Linked DNA regions of Homo sapiens. The protein of the gene in region 1 interacts with the protein of each later gene in a pairwise test. Each region holds a gene or a part of one and is shown on either strand. Other genes may lie near its edges.

Region 1 (5,692 bases):
CAAGGAACCAACCTGACCTCTTCCCACCTTCTGACCTAATCTTCCACATGCCTCTCACAGGCTACTTTGCACTGAGTTCAAGCCACTGGCTGCCCCAGGACCTTTGCACCTGCCATCCCACCCCAGCCCCTCCCCTTCCCACCCCAGCTCCTCCCCTCGCAGATGTCCTGGCCATCATCCTTATGGCACTGTCTTCATAACCTCCATGACTTTCTGAACACAACTTTTCCCCTTACTTAGTGTCTATCTCCCTCTCATTTAGTCATTCAACACACATTGACTGACGAGCTGCGGGAACAAGAATGCCTGCCCCGTGGTGTGGCCAGCACTGCCCAGTGAAGTTCCTACAGGGATGTAAAGATTCTCTACCCATGCAACCACCTACGTGTGGCTAGGAGCACCTGAAATAGGAACTGAATTTTAAATTTAAATTCCATTTAAATGGAAGCAGCCAGGTGGGCTACATAATAATGGATGACACCACCACCAGCAGCAGGTCTACCCATGGTGTTATCTTTGCTGTCTTCCTGACTTTCCTACCAGGTCCAAGCTGGGGGTGGAGACCAGGAAGAGGGCAAGGGAGACTGGAGACTCTGAAAAGAGAGGGAAAGTGGGAAGAGTAATTTTAAAATAACCTTTTGTGGCCGGGTGCCGTGGCTCACACCTGTAATCCCAGCACTTTGGGAGGCCCGGGTGGGTGGATCACCTGAAGTCAGCAGTTCAAGACCAGCCTGACCGACATGGCGAAACCCCGTCTACTAAAAATACAAAAATTAGCCGGCGTGGTGGTGCACACCTCTAATCCCAGCTACGTGGGAGGCTGAGGCAGGAGAATTGCTCCAACCCAGGAAACAGAGGTTGCAGTAAGCCAAGATCGCACCACTGTACTCCAGCCTGAGTGACAGCGTGAGATTCCATCCCAAAAAAAATAAATAACCAAAAATGAGTTGGGCGTGGTGGCACGCACCTGTAATCCCAGCTACTCGGGAGGCTGAGACAGGAGAAATGCTTGAACCCAGGAGGCGGAGATTGCAGTGAGCTGAGACTGTGCCACTGCACTCCAGCCTGAGCGACAGAGTAAGACTCTGTCTCAAAAAAAAAAAAAAAAAAGAAAAGAAAAAAAAGAAGTTACCTTTTGTACATTTTCCAAGCCGACTATGGTGAACATATAACTGAAGAAAACATTAAAAGTTGTAAAAATAAAAATAAGCAGGGAGGTTTCGTTTGTTTGTCTTTAACAATTGTACTCTGGACTGATCCGCTGGTGAGAATATAAATTGGCACGACCTTTCTGGAAAGCACTGTGGCCATTTATATATCAAGAACACTTGGTAGACTGCGTGCAAGATGCGAGATTCAGGCACCAAGATTCACTACAAAAGTGCCCAACAGTTGAACGTGGTGGGATCAACTACCTCCCCCATCATGTGATGGGAGTATTCAACCGTGCCCAGTACACAACACTATGACATGACCACGGGGAGTAGACACATGATGTACAGATGACATGAGGCACAGGGAACGTGGGATGCAGGATGATGCGTGAGTGTCATAGAAAGGGAGTCCTGGGAAGACGCCCATGGGGGGCGGCCAAGTGCTTTGTGCTGTTCATACTTCTCTGAATCTCCTCCAAATGGTGTCGGGCTCCCATGTGACCTTCATCAACATGGAAAAACAAAACAAAACAAGACATCTTTAGGAAGGATTTTTGACCATATGGGAAATGCTTATGACAAGTGAAAAGGAGGGATTCCATGGGATTTTTCCCTCTTCATCCTCTGCTGCATTTTTCATACACTCTGCAGTTCTCGTGCATCTGGTTTTACAATCCAGGAGAAAGGAGAGGTGCAGGGTGGCAGAAAGGCAACTCACGGGGACTGTGCCCAGCCAGCCATCTTCGAGTCAGCGTACCCGGCCACCTGCACCCTGATTGGGAAACTACCAGCTTGGTCTTCCCTGCCAAGGCCACAGGCAAAAATGCTCTCTTATGTTGTATTCACACTTTTATATATGTAGTTTTGAATAAGAAAAAAGGGCCTATTTTGAAGCTCCACAGGTTCAAGAAATCCCTTTGCCCTGGGGCCTCAGACCTTATACTCTCTCAGGTGCTCATGGCAGCTCACCCTGGAGACTCTAGGGAGGGGGGCTGTAGCCCCTCAGCATCCTCCAGGGTCCTGGGCTGAGGTCTGTGGGAGGAGATGCTAAGTTTATCAGGGATGAGGGTAAAGAGGAGGTCTTAGCAGAAGGCACCAGAGGTCCATGGGTGTGTCTGGGGTCTATATGGGGGCTGATGTGGAACACCTAGGCCAATGTGGGGGTACCTGAGCTGATGAGAGTCCTGGACTGATGGGTGGCTGTTTCTGGAAGATGAAGAGGGCCTGGGATGATGTGAAGGGGACTGAGGTCTACATGGCTGGTGAGGAGGATCTGGGCCCCCCCATGGGCAATGCTGTGGTGGCCCTGGGGTCCTAGAAGTCTACTTTGGTAGGGGTCTCTGATTAATGTTGGGGATGTGTGTGTGTGAGAGAGTGTCACTTGGAGGGCTCAGTGCCTGTGGAAGGGCCAGGTTCACCTGGCATGGGCACTGAGATCTGCAGCCCGAGCCCCAAATTCTATTGCGGGGATGGGCAGAAGGGCTTTGCCGCTGATGCCGGATGCTTAGTGACATAGAAGACGTGTTCACTGCGCCAGTCAGTGAATGGTTCTGGCTTTGAGAAGGGGGCTTACAGTGGGGAGGGCGTTGGGAGCTTAGGATGCCACACGGAGGAGTTCCATAATAAACGAGCTGGGGAAGTGTGCAAGGGCAGCGCACTGGGAATACAGGGGAGGGGCAGCGACGACGGCTGTGGACGGCTGGTTGGGGGGAGGATGGTGGGGTGATTGGGTGGGGGATGGGTCGGGGGCGGCTGTTCAGGAGGGAGATGGGCCTGGGGCGGGGAGGGGGAGCTTGTAGGGAGAGAGACGGGTCGGGGGCTGCTGTTCCAGTGGGGGATGGGCCCAAGGGGCCGGGTAGGGAGGGAGATGGGTCCGGGGGCGGCTGTTCAGGAGGGAGATAGGTCCCGGGATGCTGATCAGGTGTGGAAGGGAGAACTTGGACGCGGCCGAGCGGTGTTTGGGCGGGCAATGGGGGTACGTAGAGGGGCTTCGGCCTCAAACGGACAGGCGGATGCCAACAGGGGTCGGGGTCCCTGCGGAAGGGGCGGCCCCAGCCCCCCCAGTCCCCGCCCCGCGTGGCCTCTAGCCTTCCCCTTCCCTCCCCTACGGCGACCTCAGGACTCCCGATGGGCTCTGGAACCCCGGCCCGGCCCGCCCCCTCCCGGGCCCGGGCCCGCCTCCCCCGACGCGCGCCCCTGGACCGCGATCCCGGGCCAGCTCCCGCCGACGCGGCGCCGAGACCCTCCCGGGTGGGCGTCCCGATGGACGCTCTGGCGGGCGGAGGGACGGATGGGCCGCGGCGGACTCACCGCGCGCGGGCTTCGCTCGGGCCTGGGCCACTCGGTCATGGCGACCCCTGGGCTGGCGAGCGCGCCCAACGCCGCGGGCGGACCCCATCCCCGCACCCTGCGCGCCGCGGGCGGCCGCCATTGGTCCGCTGGATCACGCCGGGCGTCGGTGACAAGTCACCGCTGCGGGACTCCCGGGCAGGGGCGGGGCTGTGACGCACGAGGCGGCCGAGGCCAATCAGAAGCCGCCTGGGATGAGCGCCCCGCCCCCGCCGTGCCCTCCAGTTACCTCGGGCCGCGGTTCCAGTCGCCTTGGCAACGGGTCGCGCAGCGTCAGGGACGCTGCTGCGGAAAGTGGAGACGGTGGCGGCTGCGGGGATGCGCATGTACGATGGGGCCGCGGGGCAAAACGACGGCATTCCAGACACGCAACCGTTTTATACAGTGTCCAAGAGTAGTATGTTAAAACATTGTTTTTAATATAAATATGTTTAGTACAAGTATGTCCCAGACTAGGATCGCCACTCTTAGCAAATAAAAATACAGGACGTCGGCCGGGCGCGGTGACACGCCTGTAATCCCAGCACTTTGGGAGGCCAAGGCAGGCGGATCACGAGGTCATGAGTTCGAGACCAGCCTGACCAATATGGTGAAACCCCCGTCTCTACTAAAAATACAAAAATTACCTGGGCGTGGTGGCGCATGCCTGTAATCCCAGTTTCTCAGGAGGCTGAGACAGGAGAATCACTGGAACCGGGGAGGCGGAGGTTGCAGTGAGCCGAGATTGCTCCATTGCACTCCAGTTTTCCAGCGTGGGTGACAGAGCGAGACTCCGTCCCCCCACCCCCAAAAAAAAGAAAGAAAAAAGAAACCTCAGTTATATGTAAACTCAAGAAAAACAAGGAGGCCGGGCGCGATAGCTCACGCCTGTAATCCCAGAACTCGGGAGGCCGAGGCAGGCGGATCACCTGAGGTCGGGTGTTTCAGACCAGCCTGGCCAACATGGTGAAACCCCGTCTCTACTAAAAATACAAAAATTAGCCAGGCATGGTGGTGCGTGCCTGTAATCCCAGCTACTCGGGAGGCTGAGGTAGGAGAATCGCTGGAACTGGGGAAGCCGAGGTTGCAGTGAGCCGAGACCTGCCAACGCACTCCAGCCTTGCCTGGGCAACAGAGTGAGACTCTGTCTCAAAAAAAAAAAAAAAAAAAAAAAAAGAAAGAAAGAAAAAGAAAAACAAGGAATTAGTATCAATGTGTCCTATATTTCATATACTTTAACGAAACCTTACATAAGAACATTTCATATAAATAAGTTTTAATATTAATGTCTACAATGTAACCATGTGCCAGAATAGTAGGGTTCCACAGATACTCGTTTTGTATCTGAAATCAGGTGGGGGTGAGATCATGATGCAAGGAGGGTCCTCAGCTCTGGGACTGAGCTCAGGATAGCTGAAGCTGCTCATTGCTGAAGAAGAAGCAGGAGAGTGTGAGCTAAGAAAAGAGAGGAGGACCCACCTCCAGGGGGTCCAGCATCTGCTGGACAGCTGTTTATTGAGGGCCTATGTGTACCAGGCACTGTTCTGGACACTGGGGTGGGAGCACATCAGTGAGAGGGACTGATAGGGCTTTAGTCCCTTGGAAGCCCATGTTCATGGGGCAAACACCAGTAAACAAAGCAGATGCTTCATGGAAATATAAATACCTAGAATAAAATAAAACGAGGCCTGGAGATTAAGAGTCCCAGGAGTGGCAGGGAGGGGAGGGGCTGCCTCAGCTGGATAATCAGAGCCGTGTCTCCGCATCTTTGCTGCTGGCGGCTGGTCCCTGGAATGTTGTGTGTGAATGCCACTTTGTGCAGAAACCACTATGGGAAAACCAAATTAGGGTGCTAAGGGCTTATTATTCTCCTTCTTGAAAATTAGGCACTTGTAATGACATGGTTCATTTTCTTGGTAGCTGAAATTGGCGTGGCCCTTTGGGGCAGTGAAGGCTCATGTGTGCATTTATAACTGCCACCCATTTGGGAAATCTCCCTTGAGAGAACACTGACTTAGTCTGTCTCTAGAGTCTGGATCTAGACACCATCATAGGCCACCTGGTAACTCTAGATCCATTGGGAGGCAGCCTGGTGTCTAGCAGAGGTTTCAGTTTTTTTTTGTTTGTTTGTTTTGTTTTTTTTAAAAAGAGTCTTGCTCTTGTTGCCCAGGCTGGAGTGCAAAGGCGTGATCTTGGCTCACTGCAACCTC
Region 2 (5,088 bases), on another chromosome or scaffold:
AAGGAGATGCCATCTAGGACTTTCATAGCTAGAGAGGATTGAGTTCAACTTTGAAAGGAGTTCTACTGTGGGTAAAATGCTATCCAATAGCATCACATACTACAGAGAAATCCTTCATGAAAGGGAGAGCTAATCGATGTGGCAAATTTCATTGTTGTGTTCTTTTAAGAAACTGCCACAGCCACTCCAATCTTCAGCAACCACCACCTTGACCAGCCAGCAGCCATCAACACCGAGGCAAGACCCTCCACCAGCAAAAAGAGTGTGACTCACTGAAGGCTCAGAAGATTGTTAGCATTTTTAACAATGAATTATTTTAAAATTAAGGTATATACATTTTTAGACATAATGCTATTGCACACTTAGTAGACTACACTGTAGTGTAAACATAACGTTTTATGCACTGTCAAACAAAAAACAATGTGTGTGACTCACTTTATTGCAGTGGTCTGGAACCGAACCTGCAGTATCTCTGAAGGACACCTGTATTGGGTAACAGGCATTGAGCTGAGTAAGATATGATCCCAGGTTATCACAGATAGAATCGCTTGAGCACCTTTCATGTCATCAGGCCTTCTAGATTAAATTTAATGTCTCCAAACAATTTATGAACTATGATTCTTTATTTCCATCTTATGGACTAGGAACCTGGAGCTGAGGAAATTTGGAAGACTTTCCTCAAGTCACGTGGTTTTTTTTTATATGGATGACAACTCCAGTCTGTCTCTGGAAGTCATGTCTAACATCTCATCTGGAGCTGGGCAAGCTCCTCAGCCCAGCCTGGACCCAGGGTTATCTGGGATCCATGCCACACACCCAGTCCACACACCTGAACGTCGCCAGGGAAGCCAGTGGGATTGTTCCTGAATTGCTTCCTCTTACCAGATATCATGTTAATCTTCTCAGAGGTAGTTGGTTTTCCCGGGGGGCACAGCTGTTTCCCATCGTTTTGTGGGCCAGATGCTTCTGGCACTTCCTTCGAAACATTTCCTTCCTCTGCTGGCTTCTTGGGCATGATCTTTATAATGTGAAGGTCATAGATAAATAGTATCAGTGACATTTCTATAGTGCTTTTGAGCTTACAAAGGGTCTTCACATGCATTAGCTTATTCAATGTTCTCAACAACACTGGGAGAGTTACACAGGCCTAAATTAGGAGAAACCTGGGAGGGGAGGTTAGAAGGGAAAGGAATGGCCTAAGTGAATATGGTTTCCAGGGATAGAATGCTTATCTTCCCACTCTTTTAGGACTCACATTCTTGCAAACAGCAAAAATCTCCATTTAATTGAGAGTGTGATATACAGATGATTTGGAGAAGAGTAGCATTCTAAGAATTCACAAGGTCTACAAAGGGAAGAGGTTCTGTAAAATACAAGGGATCCCATATAAGCTTGTAGACAGCTGCTGGGAGAGTAAATGTAAAAACATAGGGAGGCGACAAAACACTGCTGGGAAAGATGGTGTGGGGAGATGAACACAAGGAAGGGAGAGGGAAATAAATGGCTTGCTGAAATTAATCTAGGCAGCAAACAAAGCAGTACCAGATATGACATACTACCCTACCGAGGCACCAATTGAATGTGGAATTCAGTGAGGTGGTACCCATACCAATTCTGGTTGCATTGGGATGTGTACTGACCAACAATCTTAAGCTGCTTTCTTTTTCTTTTTTTTTTTTTTTTTTGAGACGGAGTCTTGCTGTGTCGCCAGAATGGGGAGCCGTGGCATGATATCGGCTCAAGGCAATATCTGACTCCCGCGTTTAAGCGATTCTCCTTCCTTAGCCTCCAGAGTATCTGGGACTACAGGCAGGCACTACCACGCCCCACTAAGTTTTGTATTTTTAGTAGAGACGAGGTTTCACCATGTTGGGCAGGATGGTCTCGATCTCCTGACCTTGTGATCTGCCCGACTCAGCCTCCCAAAGTGCTGGGATTACAGTCGTGAGCCACCGCGCCCTGATCTTAAGCTACTTTTAATTCAGCTTCCTCCCTTATGAAATAGTGAACCATACATGTAAAATAGGCTACAAGAAAGTGCTCTCTGAGCTTGTAAACACTCTTTAAATGTAGTAATAATAACAATTAATACCTTTCACAATCCTTCTTTGAATTCAGTCTCCACACTGGCAACCCAACTCCCAGATCCCTTTACCCTCCAAACCAGAGTTGAATCTGCACTTGTGGGATCACTCATTCAGGGGCCTCCGAGGGATCCCCTGGGCTGGGACTGGGGCTTCCCAGACGCCCCAGGTGCAGACAAGGCACTCAAGGAGCTCACAGTAGGGAGGGGCCAACAATCAAAGCGATTCCTAAGCCATGCAAGTGGCCCCAGTAACACAGCAGAGACCAGATGGTCCTTCCTGTTGCGAGAGTGGGTGTCTCAATGGAAGCACCAGCAGGCCCTATGGGGTGAAGCCCTAGTGAGCAACATCTGAACTTCATAAACAAATGCAAACGTGAATGAGCTTTAAATGGCTTGGAGCTCTGGATTAGACTACCACTGACACTGCGCCTCAGGAAAATTCTTTAACATCTCTGTACCACGATAGCCTCATTTTATTATTATGTTGCTGATAACTATGATCTAAAACATAAACTATAATTCTTTACTTCCATTTCATGGACCAGGAATCTGGAGCTCAGAGAACTCAGAAGATTTGTGCCAAGTCATATGGCTATCATATGGATGAAAACTGAAATGTGTTACTCATTATTATTCGGAGATAATAGAAACAATGTCTTCTTAAGGATTAAATAAATTAATCCATGTGAACTGCTTGAAATAGTATCTGGCATCACTATGAAAACAAAAGAGGTATGAACAATCACAAATGTTGGTACTATCAAGCCGTCGGTGCTACATCAGGTGTTGTGATAGACATGGGGAGAAGAAGGCAGTGAGGGCATTGTTGATATTCTCCCACTCTTACCAGTGTTCGCATCCTTGGAGGGACAAAGGTTCTCTGGTCCTTTAGATCTGAAAGATACTCACCTTCGGGAAGATTCCCTGGAGCCTGCCGAAAGTCATCTGAGGACGTTGAACTGAAAGAGAATACATCAGAATTTTTCATTGTTGGTAAAGGTTTCCAAACTCTAGAGAGACTTCTGTCGCATCAGGGTATTCTGCAGCAGAGGCTTATGAGTCCACGCATTGTTGAGGAGTTATTTCAGATTTGCTTCTGAATTATGTTTAGTCATGGTTGATGCATTTATCTGTGGCATCAATTCAGAATTTTCCATCTCATGGTTTATCACATGGGGACTACACCCCATCACAGTCTCATCTTATTCGATTACATATCTTTTACTTTTTCCCAAATAATTAAATTGATTGGTTAGGAATCTGAACTGTATCCACTCAAGATGTGCAACAACTGAAAATCATTGTACACTTCAAATGGGTGAATCTTATGGTATGTGAATTAAGCTGTTAAATGTGTGGTGAACCACGGATGATTTGGTCCAGTGGCTCTGAAAGATTTTCAGTACAAAGACAGTCCTTTAACGTTAAAAACTTGGCAGATACTCAAGCACTGGCTTTTCAGATCTCTTATAGTGATTGCGGGAGATTGTAGAATCTGGCCTGTTTAGTTGGCGAGTAATAGGTCTATTGGAGACGGTTTGGACATTCTGACCTTGTCTTATAATTATGTTGTCAGAGTAGAAGAGCAAGTAAATACATATGTCCCCTTTATTTTCCTGAAATGCACAAAGCTCTCTACCCAAGAACCTGTCTTTTTTTCATCCTATGTTATCTCTGTTCTCTGACAAGTGGGAAAGCTCTCTGTGTTTTCGATAAGGGATCACTCTTTCAAACTCTCTTTCAAGCTCATCACAGAGAATCAGGGTTATTTGGGAATGAGAAGACTATTTGGTTTTGATAAAATACAGAGAAACAGCGATCTTTATTACATAATGTGTTCATCAACCTCACTCCTAAGATACCTATCCAATACCTACATGCTGTTAATGAAACAACCTCTGGAAGTTTTTGGCGGATCTACAGTTTTAACACTTTCTTTCTTTTTTTTTTTTTTCACTTGTAACATTTTCTTAACTGTCCTTTGATACATTAACAGTGCTTAGGAAGAACAACATGTCATTTAAAAAAGAAATATTTCAAACACACAGAAAAGTATGGGGAATAATATTGAGTCCAGTCGGATCTCAACATTACCCCACAGCTAAGTTAGGTCTGATTTATTTATTCAGAATATTAGAAAAACTGCAAACAGGCCGGGCGTGGTAGCTCACACTTGTAATCCCAGCAGTTTGGAAGGCTGAGGCGGGTGGATCACCTGAGGTCAGGAAGTTTGAGACCAGCCTGGCCAACATGGTGAAACCCCGTCTCTACCATAAATTAAAAAATGAGCTGAGTGTGGGGGCACGTGCGTGTAACCCCAGCTACTCGGGAGGCTGAGGCAGAAGAATCACTTGAACCCAGGAGGTGAAAGTTGGAGTGAGCTGAGATTGCCTTATTGCACTCCACCCTGGCCGAGAAGAGTGAAACTCCATCTCAAAAACAAAAACAAACAAAACACACTATCAACAAGTCACAGCTGAAGCTGTCTGTGCAGCACTCAGCAATCCCTGCCCTCCCTCCCTCCTCCACTTACAGCCAGTCACCTTAGTTTGATGGCTTTTTATTCACATTCATGTTTGTATACATTTACCATTTACTTATTATCCATAAAAATATATATTCTTCTTTTGCATGTTTTAAAATTTTATATGAATGACCTCTGTAGTTAACTTTCTGCATGCAATTTTTTTTTTCACTCTGCCCCGATGTGTATGAGGGAACAAATGCCTGAGGCTCTTTCCCAGGTAGCTGAGCTGAAAAGCAATTGGGCTTGAGGAGACCCTTTCCAGCCCCTTCCCATCTACTCACCCTGATTCCCACGGTTAGGGTCATTATCAAAATCATTCCCCTGGAAGTCTGTGACCCGTTTATTACGCATGAAAGATGGGAGGATGGCCTTGAAACCTAGAAAGAAGCAAAATGTTTATTCCTTAAGAGACAAGCTTGGGCCTGGTACGGTGGCTCATGTCTGTAGTACCAACACTTTGGGAGGCTAAGGCTGG
Region 3 (4,857 bases), on another chromosome or scaffold:
CTGCTCCCCTAAGGTCCCTCTCCCTTCGCCGTAAGATGTGACTGACCAGTACAGTTTCTCCTGAATTGACAAACTGAACTACTCCTTCTACCGGCTAAACCCTGACATCAGTAGAATCAAACCAAAAACAAGGTAGAGTGTTTCACAGAGAAGTGGTGGATTGAATAAGGCAGCAGAAACACATACCATCCAGCCCCTGAACCTGAATTTTGCCAAAACAGAGATACTTTAAGTCCATTTCTTTTCAAAGGGGTTAATGCTCAAAGTGGGAATAGTGACTAGGGTATTCTAGTGGTTGGAATAATAATTTCTAGAAAAGGTTCATTGCTGAGGTACCAAAACAGACATCATGCTAAGGAATTCTTTTACTGTGCGCTTCCCTGAATAGATACGCCGTCAAACAAGGCAGAAGCTACAAATAAAGCTTACTTCTACTGAACTCATGAAGCTGTTCCTAGTGTCAGTTTTGAGTTTCAAGTGAAGACTGAATGTCAACTGCAGGCTTTCCGAATTCCTCGACCATGTCCATCCATGGATTCTCTTCTTGTCTAGATTTCCAAGCATGAAGATGCTAACTAAAGCATTTCTCAATGGGGAACACGAAAAGATTTCTATTATTGTGGGTTCTCCGGTGTTCCTAAAGGCTGAGTTATAACTAAAGGATTTCAACCTATTTGTGAGTTTGATGGTAACGCTGGAAAAATGCTTGAAGTTGTTACTTTGCTCATTATAGGAGTATGGTTTCCCTCCAGGAAGGTTTCTCTAAAATTAAGAGCTATTCTACAACAGAGACCCCTCTACACTTAAGGTATTTATGGGATCTGTCCTCTCATGGCTTCTCAGGTGTTTAAAGAGGCTACAACTCCAGCTGAAATTCATTCCACATTCTTTACATTGAAAAGGTTTCTCACCAGTATGGATTCTCTGATGTTGATTAAGATGTGACTTCAGAGTGAAGCCTCTGCCACATTCATGACATTGATGGGATTTTGTGCTGGAGTAGATTTTTTGATGTTGTTTGGTGTGGGAACACTGGCCAACATTTTCTCTACATATATCACATTGATAGGGCTTCTCTGCTGTATGAGTTCTGTAATGCTGAATGAGGTCTGAGCTATAACCAAAGGCTTTTCCACAGATATCACACTGATAAGGCTGCTCTTGTAACTCAATCTTCTTGTCTTCAATCACTGTCAAGTTCCAACTATATGCTTCCTCACAGATGCCATTTTTTTCATTTTTCTGACCCATGTGGAGCACCTGATGTTCAATTAGGCTAACGTACTGAAAAAAGATTTCCCCACATTCACGACACTGATGGGATTTCTCTCGGGAGTGGAGTCGAAGATGTCCAGCCAGGTGGGAACGCCTCCCAAAGCCTTTCCCACATTCGTTACACTTGAAGGGTCTCTCCCCACTGTGCACGCTCTGATGCTGAACAAGGTGGGACCTCACTCTGAAGGCTTTCCCACATAAGGGACAGGTGTAGGGCTTCTCACCTGTGTGGACGCGCTGATGCTGAGTTAGGTGCACGCGTTGGTTGTAGCTTTTCCCACATTCCTCACACCTGAATGGTTTCTCCCCAGTGTGTATTCTTTGATGTTGAATAAGATGTGCACTCTGAATGAAGCTTTTCCCACACTCGTTACATTTATGTGGTCTCTCTCCAGTGGAGGATTTTTTGTGGACATATGGGACTTCACTGTAGTTCATCCTCTTTGAAGATGGTTGTCCTAGTATCTCTTTCATGGGAATTCCCTGCTTTCTATCCAGCTTGCCTTGAAACTCACAGCCTTCTCCAAAATCTTGAACTTGAGAAACATTTCTTTGGGTTTTTCCAGATAGTTCCATGTCTGCTTCTGAATATTCTGAAATTTTCTTCTTAACACTTAATTTTGTGTTCTTACTTCTTTTGTCACTGCCTAAAAAAAATAAAGAGCAAGTGAAAATGTCATCAGTTCTTTTTTTTTTTTGAGATGGGGTCTTGCTCTGTCGCCCAGGCTAGAGTGCAATGATGCGATCTCGGCTCACTGCAACCTCTGCCTCCTGGGTTCAAGTGATTCTCCTGCCTCAGCCTCTCAAGTAGCTGAGACTACAGGCGTGCATGACCACACCCAGCTAATTTTTGTATGTTTAGTAGAGATGGGGTTTTGCCATGTTGGCCAGGCTGGTCTCAAACTCCTGACTTTGGGTGATCCACCCGCCTCAGCCTCCCAAAGTGCTGGGATTACAGGTTTAAGCCACCGTGCCTGGCCCATCAGTTCTTTTATAAAGGAAAAATAAACTGTCATAAAAAATGTTCATCAGATGAAACTATGATGTAACGGGAGTAACAGAGGTGGATGTGTGTGTGTACTTGATGCCAACAGGAATGTAAACAACAAACTTTTGGAATTTTCTGACGAAAAGAGCAAGACTCATCCACAGGATGGCAGAAAATATTTGCAAACTATGCATCAGACAAAGGACTAATATCCAGAATCTACAAGTAACTCTAACAAGTCAACAAGAAAAAAAAAATCCCATCAAAAAGTAGGCAAATGACATGGAGACAGTTCTCAAAATAATATATACAAATGACCAACAAACATGAAAAAAATGCTGAACATCACTAATCATCAGGAAGGTGCAAATTAAAGCCACAATAAGGTACTGCCTTACTCCTGCAAGAATGGCCATTATTAAGAAGTCAAAAGGCCGGGCGTGGTGGCTCACACCTGTAATCCCAGCACTATGGGAGGCCGAGGCGGGCAGATCACCTGAGGTCAGGAGTTCGAAACCAGCCTGGCCAACATGGTGAAACCCACATCTCTACTAAAAATACAAAAATTAGCTGGGCATGGTGGCGGGCGCCTGTAATCCCAGCTACTCAGGAGGCTGAGGCAGGAGAATCGCTTGAACCCAGGAGGCTGAGGTTGCAGTGAGCCGAGACTGCGCCATTGCACTCCAGCCTGGGCAACAGCAAGACTCCATCTCAAAAAAAAAAAAAAAAAAAGGCCGGGTGCAGGTGGCTCACGCCTGTAATCCCAGAACTTTGGGAAGCCGAGGTGGGTGGATCACGAGGTCAGGAATTCAAGACCAGCCTGACCAAGACAGTGAAACCCCATCTCTACTAAAAATACAAAAATTAGCTGGGCATGGTGGTGGGTGCCCTGTAATCACAGCTACTCCAGAGGCTGAGGCAGAGAATTGCTTGAACCCAAGAGGCAGAGGTTGCAGTGAGCCAAGATTGCGCCACTGCACTCCAGCCTGGGCAACACAGCGAGACTCCATCTCAAAAAAAACAAAGAAGTCAAAAAACAATAGATGTTGGCATGGATGTGGTGAAAAGGGAACGCTTATACATTGCTGGTGAGAGATAAATTAATACAACTTCTGTGGATAACAGTATGGAGACTTCTTCAAGAACCAGAAGTAGATCTGCCATTTGATCCAGCAATTCCACAACTGGGTATATCTACACAAAGGAAAAGACAATATACCAAAAAGACTGTAAGCGCCTGTCTTCTGCAGCACAATTCACAACTGCAAAGATATGGAGCCAATCTAAGTGCCCGTTGAGCAATGAGTTGATAAAGAAAATGTAGCAGGCTGGGTGTGGTGACTCGTGCCTATAATCCCAGCACTTTGGGAGGCTGAGGCAGGTGGATCACCTGAGGTCAGGAGTTCAAGACCAGCCTGACCAACATGGTAAAACCTCATCTCTACTAAACATACAAAAATTAGCAAGGGATCGTGGTAGGTGCCTGTAGTCCCAGCTACTCGGGAGGCTGAGGCAGAAGAATCGCCTGAACCCAGGAGGCAGAAGCTGCAGTGAGTTGAGATCACATCACTGCACTCCAGCCTGGGTGACAGAGTGAGACTCCATCTCAAAAAAGAAAAACAAAAAACAAATACATAACTGGGTGGTGAGAACTGACAAAAACTGGAAGAATGAGAGTGAAGGATGATGAAGAGGGTATGCAGTCAGGGAATATCTGACTAGGAGTCAGGAAATAAGGCAAAATGAGCCAACAAGAAGCATTGTCAGAGGGTGGGTGATACAGCAATCCCTGCCCCCTTCACCCTTAGCCAACATTCTAGCCTCAGTTTTCCTCCCCCGGCATGTCATCCTTCTCCTTTGGGAATGCTCATCACCTTTACTATCTGCTACCCCCACCAGACCATCGGCTGCATGAGAGCATGGACTGTATCTCTGTTCTGGTCACTGCAGATCCTGTGCAACTAGCAACACAGACTCTCAATAATATGGCTGGATGTGCAAAACATGTATTCCCCCTTTGATCCAGAAAAATGAGGGAGGACCGGGCATGGTGGCTCACACCTGTAACTCCTAGCACTTGTGGAGGCCAAGGCTGGAGGATCGCTTAAGCCTAGAAGTTCAAGACCAGCCTGGGCAACAGAGCCAGACCCCTTCTCTACAAAAAATACATAAATTAGCTGGGTGTGGTGGTGAACACTTGTAGTCCCAGCTATGCAGGAAGCTGAGGTGGGAGGATTAGTTCAGCCCAGGAAGTGGAGGCTGCAGTGAGCTGAGATCCCGCTACTTTACCCTAGCCTGTGTGACAGAGCAAGACCCTATCTCAAAATACAAAAACGCCCCCGCCCCACAAAAAAAATGTGGAAGGCAAGTGAGTATTCACTGGGAAACTAGCCATAGAAACAATTGCAGGGAAGGTAGAAAACAAAAGATAACTATTTTAAAGCGATTGCTTTTTCAAGTCCAAAGCGCTATTGGTGGATTTTCCAAATGAGGGAATCATCGAGTAGAACGGGAAAACACTAGCTGAGAGGATAGCTCAGCTCAAACCCAGAACTTTAAAGACACTTTACTGACTTCTGTGCCATGGTGGAAGA
Region 4 (4,890 bases), on another chromosome or scaffold:
CCTGCTTCTTCCACATCCACTGCTTGGTGAGGCCTGGGGCATCCCGGAACGACGCAGGTTTGATTCTGTTTCATGAACGTGACCTCAAGTGGCTACAACTTCCTTTTTCTGGAAACTGCTGTCTTGCTTTGTAACTCTCCAGCATATACAGAGAGCACTGCTCGACTTCCGCCATGGAAGCTGAGGTCTAAACCATTACTATCTGCTGCCTCAGGCGGTCTGGTCTTCCTTGCATGCCAGACGTCCTTGAGGCTCTGTCGTTTAATTGGCTGCAGCTTAATACAAAAGTGGCCTTTCTGGATTAGTCTCCAAGTAAATATTTCATTTGCCTTAAAAAAAAAAAAACTTTGAAGTTCTGTCATATTCTCTGGCAAAAGTCACAAGGAAAGCTATCAGCTTGCTTGTCTTTTTTATAGACAATCCATGCCACAATGAATGTCCCTTGCTCACAAAACCTGCTATGCCTCATTATTCTAAGGCACACATTCGTGTATGTACTTCTTAAACCCCCTTACATTCCAATAGTTGTGTAATGAGAGAGAAAAAGAGAGGTAACATTAACCTAGCTCTATGGGTAATTACAGGATACAATGGCTTAGTGAAGCCTCCGCAATCCTTCTGGGCCTAGAAACACCTTCTGTACAATTTTTTTTTATGCAAAGGCCTGCTCTTTTCATTGCGCATACAACGTGATTGCTGGTTTGACACTGCAGGCTACACTGGTTTTATGAAGGATTAAATGCCACCTGAGACATATTTATCCTAAATAAATCACCGACGGTACACTGCAGCATGTCAGTGTCAACACCCTGGACTGCAGCAGAAAGGTTAGCCATACAGGACTACGCACGGTTAGGAATTAGCATCCGAGCCGAGGGCCGTGGGCTACTGCTAACGGGAGGAGTGATCAAGAAGAAATCTTTCCACTGAAAAACATCCCCCCGCCAACCTTTTTTTTTTTTTTTTTTTTTTTTTTTTTTAACATGTATGAGAAGCCTGGCGAGGGCCATCACTTTGTAAAGGTCACCTTGATCCTGTCACTGTTTGCTGAAGACAGTGTTTAAGAAGCCCTGAATAGCCCTGCCATTGTTAAGAAACATGAGCAAGTCATACTCAGCTAATTATGGATCTCAGTGTCAGCCTTGAAATTTACCTTCAGTTCTTATTTTTTTGGAGGAGTGGCTGTCTAAAGGGAGGTGGCCCTAGGTGGACAGAGCTCAGCAGTGAGAAGGGCGCTAGGAAGAGGCCGGTTCCGCTTCTGAACTGGTCAAAGCGTGAGCTGGTCTCCATGCTCTCTCAGGAAGAGATTTTAAACGGCACTTGTATTTAAACAAAGAAGGTACCACTCTCCTTTCCTCTCATGCCTGCTCTTCACGATTTCTAGATGCTATCCATGATAGAATACGTTATTGTCACCAGAATGCATCTGGGCCATTTGCCAGATGCTGAGAAACAGTATCGGGCTGCAGGGGATGTGCAGCAGTGCTCCGCGTCTGGAGGCCACGAAGGAGGGAGAAGCCAGCAGCCACAAGCGCCGGGGTGCCCCCTCGGTTGCCACAGCTGCCCACCACTGGCTGCTGAAAATAACATGCCATCGTGATCTTTTAACGTTATAATTTTATTTCAAAGAAAACAGAAACAGAACAAAAACAACCTTTGCATTTGAGGGAGGAGATTATTTTACAGTTTTGGAAAAGAATAAGAACAATTGTATCAGGAAACAAATGATTATGACAGAAACTCGCATCCGACAGCTGCAGTGAATCCACGAGGACACAGACCATGCTGGTGGCCACAGCAGGGCCACAGGTGAATCCACAAGGAAACACAGACCATGCTGGCAGCCACGGCAGGGCCACAGGGCACGGTCTCCATGTGTTAATGTTTAATGTCAGCATTTTCATATGGACAGAAATCACGAAGAAATCCTGCAAAAATGGCATCAATATGAACAAACCCTTGTTATAAAAAGCAAAATATTGATAGGAACAATATCTTCCAGCGTGTGCGTTTCACATTTAGGCTTTACTGTATGAAACTAAGTCAAAATTAGAAGCACTGGCTATCTCCACCGACATATATTTTAACTGAATATAAACTTCAAGGCTTTTCTTAACCATAGGCTTAAGAGGATTTCTTTTATGCAGAATGTGACCAGAGCAACAAATACACCTAAACTGTTTGAAGATGGGAAATTTATACATGAAATGAGCTAGCAGGCTTCCTTTGGTATGGGGACACTGTTATTCTAAAATTAAAAAAAAAAAATTGAATGGAAGTGGACTGCTTCAAGATGGTAACACTTGTAGCTGCAATTTTTAGCCCAGTAGAGAATGAAATGGAAAGGCAGCTACATGCTGACTGCACAAGCAGGTGCACCCCAAGCCAGGAGGGGTATCTTCACCACTTTCCCCACGGCCATGACCTTCTGATAACTGAAATGGGAAAACACTTGGGAGAGAAAAACACCAACAACACTTGGCTTCTCTTCAGCACAGCGGCCAGGACGAAGCGGGAGGCCACTGATCGAAGGGCCCCCAGTGGACCGGAGCTCCCTGTGCGGCCTGCGCCCGGCCCTCCCCTGCACTTGGCAGCCTGCTCCCCGAGGCCCAGCCCACGGTACCCTCTGTGGGCGCCTGGCTGGTGGCCAGTGTGACTCTCGCTGGGAGGGCATGCTCAGAGCTCACGGGAGCCTTGTCCTCATGGTTTTGAAGGTTTCAGATGAAGCTCAGGGAACACGGTCCCCCACCGAAGCTGGACCTTCCCACACCTGCCCTGTGCTGAGTAAAGGTGCCGCGCGTCTCATGCTTCCTGGAGTTCGCTGCTTTCTCTTTGGCTCTGAATTGCCGCCGCGGCCGAGGAGCCCTCCTGGGTGTAGATGACCACGCTGGCCAGCTGCTCTGCCCTGCTTGGGGCCCCGGCCTCTGTGCCTAGCGTGGCCCCGGCCTGCAGGAGTTCCTGCGAGTCCGCAGTCTCCAGCACGGTGTGGGAGTACAGGCCCGGCTCGTCCTGCACCCCTGGGGGCAGCTCTGTCAGGATGTAGTGCGTGGTGCCCTCGGAGAAGCCGCCACTGGACTCCTGCACCATGGCCTGGACCAGCTCCTCCGTCACGATGATCTGCGAGATCTCCCCGTCGGACTCCACCAGATCCATGTGCTCGCCCTGCGCCTCCTGCATGATGATCTGGGCACCCTCCCCGGCGACCATGTGGACGGCACCCTCTTCGCTCACCACCACCTGGGTGACACCGTCCTTGACCAACTGGCCGGCCGCGGCCGTGTCACACACAGCAAACTGGAGGACGCCCTGGACCATCTTCTTGAAGGCCACCTGTGCCCGCTCCTGAGAGGCCATGGCTGCTGAGGGATGGACCACCTGGGTGAGCACCTCCACGGCGGCCGGGCTCTCCTGGGCCTGTGGGAACATCTGGATCTCGGGGGCCTCGGGGTCGGCAGCCACATGGGAGACCTCCTGCCCGGGCAGCTGGATCAGCACGTCTTTGGCGCCGGGCCTGCCTTGCTCCTCGAGCCCAGCCCTGCCCTCCACCTCCCCTAATTCAGTGACCGCACAGAGCAATGCATCCAGGGCTGAGGATGCCTCGGGGGGAGCGACTCCAGCCTCCGAGAGGTTTAAAATCTCCTGCTTGGTCACCTGTTGTATCACAGCGCCACCTGGACTGAGGGACTCATCCATGCCGTGGCCTTCCATGGAGCCCCCCACGACGACCACCTGGGTGGCTCCATCAGCCAGCTGCTCGGGGAGGATGGGTCCGGGCACCACGCTGCCTACATGTGCCCCGCTCTGACTCGTGGCGATGACCTGGCCATCCTCCGTGATATGCACCACCCGGGCCACCTGGCCGGCCATGGCCAGCGTCTGCAGCGTGGCGGCGGCCGTCTCCTCCACCGAGGGGTCCAGGGCAAACTCCCCGTCGTAGCCCTGGAAGATGATGACCTGCTGCACCTGCTCAGGGGGCGGCGCTGGCCTCCTGCTGCTTCTGAGGGGCTTCTCCTTGACGAGGGGCTCTTCTGCCAAGGCCGCCGCGGTGAAGGGGCTGTCTGTCTCCACGAAGGTGGCTCCTTGTCCCTTTAGACGGCACTCGTACGACTTGGAAACAATGCCTAAGGGAGACAGGGACCAGTTAGAGCCTGGAAAAAGTACTCGTAGGCTTACAAGTAAGACACTTCTTCTGCAGAAGCGCTCAGGCCTCAGCAGAGTCACCACGACCCCCTATTCCAAACCCTGAAGAGCTCTCTACAGTGCAAGCTTCAGCAGGGCCAGAGGCCTCCGTGGGCATCTGCAGGCAGGCTCTAGGCTCAAGGGCACACACAGTTAATACTGGGTGTGCATTTCCCCACAGCCCTGTGAGCTGTCCAATACAACTCTTTGCAGGGGTGTGCGCCTCTCCAATGCCCAGGGAAGGAGGCTGGATACCTCCCCCCAACCACCATCATGTCTTTTGTAACAATGCGTTCCGTCACGGGTGCTAAGTAAAGTTCAGCAAACAGCCAGCAGTAGTATCTCCTAACCCAACGGAAAATCTTTTTTTAATGACCAAATATTATATATGGTATATTTGTTTATTCAGCAAAAAGAATGAAAGCCTTGCATATTAAATTTTAAAAAATGTCATCAATAAACACCGCTGTAAAAGTTTAATGCAACAAATATTTATTGAACATCGACGTTTCAGGTGCTGAACCTGGGCAGGCAGCCTGTGCGGCCATGTGAGTCGCCGTGTCCTGGCAGCATGCAGGGCACTCTGCAGGGTGCTGGGCACATGCAGACACAGGGTCCTGGCCACTCAGGGGCTGAGAGGGGAGTCTATACTGCAGAACTGGGCAGCGGGCTTCGAGGGGACAGACTCAGCCTTCCTCTTCTCTGTCCCAT

The links. Proteins that work in one complex are often made in the same cells at the same time.
Region 2: the proteins of ZSCAN1 (region 1) and SSX3 interact in a two-hybrid assay, tested with the Homo sapiens proteins (one large-scale study listed by BioGRID and IntAct).
Region 3: the proteins of ZSCAN1 (region 1) and ZKSCAN5 interact in a two-hybrid assay, tested with the Homo sapiens proteins (one large-scale study listed by BioGRID and IntAct).
Region 4: the proteins of ZSCAN1 (region 1) and ZNF407 interact in a two-hybrid assay, tested with the Homo sapiens proteins (one large-scale study listed by BioGRID and IntAct).

What each region holds. Positions count from the first base shown.
Region 1 is NC_000019.10:58,031,934-58,037,625, reverse strand, and holds the start of ZSCAN1 (zinc finger and SCAN domain-containing protein 1), read right to left. Parts: upstream 3,602-5,692; 5' UTR 3,465-3,601; intron 2,884-3,464; exon of another isoform or gene 1,657-2,883; 5' UTR 1,615-1,656; exon of another isoform or gene 1,144-1,614; coding exon of another isoform or gene 1,133-1,143; intron 1-1,132. UniProt on the Homo sapiens protein: May be involved in transcriptional regulation.
Region 2 is NC_000023.11:48,349,105-48,354,192, forward strand, and holds part of SSX3 (protein SSX3), read right to left. Parts: intron 4,991-5,088; coding exon 4,895-4,990; intron 3,046-4,894; coding exon 2,996-3,045; intron 1,019-2,995; coding exon 883-1,018; intron 484-882; coding exon of another isoform or gene 437-483; exon of another isoform or gene 293-436; intron 1-292. UniProt on the Homo sapiens protein: Could act as a modulator of transcription.
Region 3 is NC_000007.14:99,528,173-99,533,029, reverse strand, and holds part of ZKSCAN5 (zinc finger protein with KRAB and SCAN domains 5), read right to left. Parts: intron 1,923-4,857; coding exon 781-1,922; 3' UTR 1-780. UniProt on the Homo sapiens protein: May be involved in transcriptional regulation.
Region 4 is NC_000018.10:75,062,381-75,067,270, reverse strand, and holds the end of ZNF407 (zinc finger protein 407), read right to left. Parts: intron 4,122-4,890; coding exon 2,803-4,121; 3' UTR 1,600-2,802; downstream 1-1,599. UniProt on the Homo sapiens protein: May be involved in transcriptional regulation.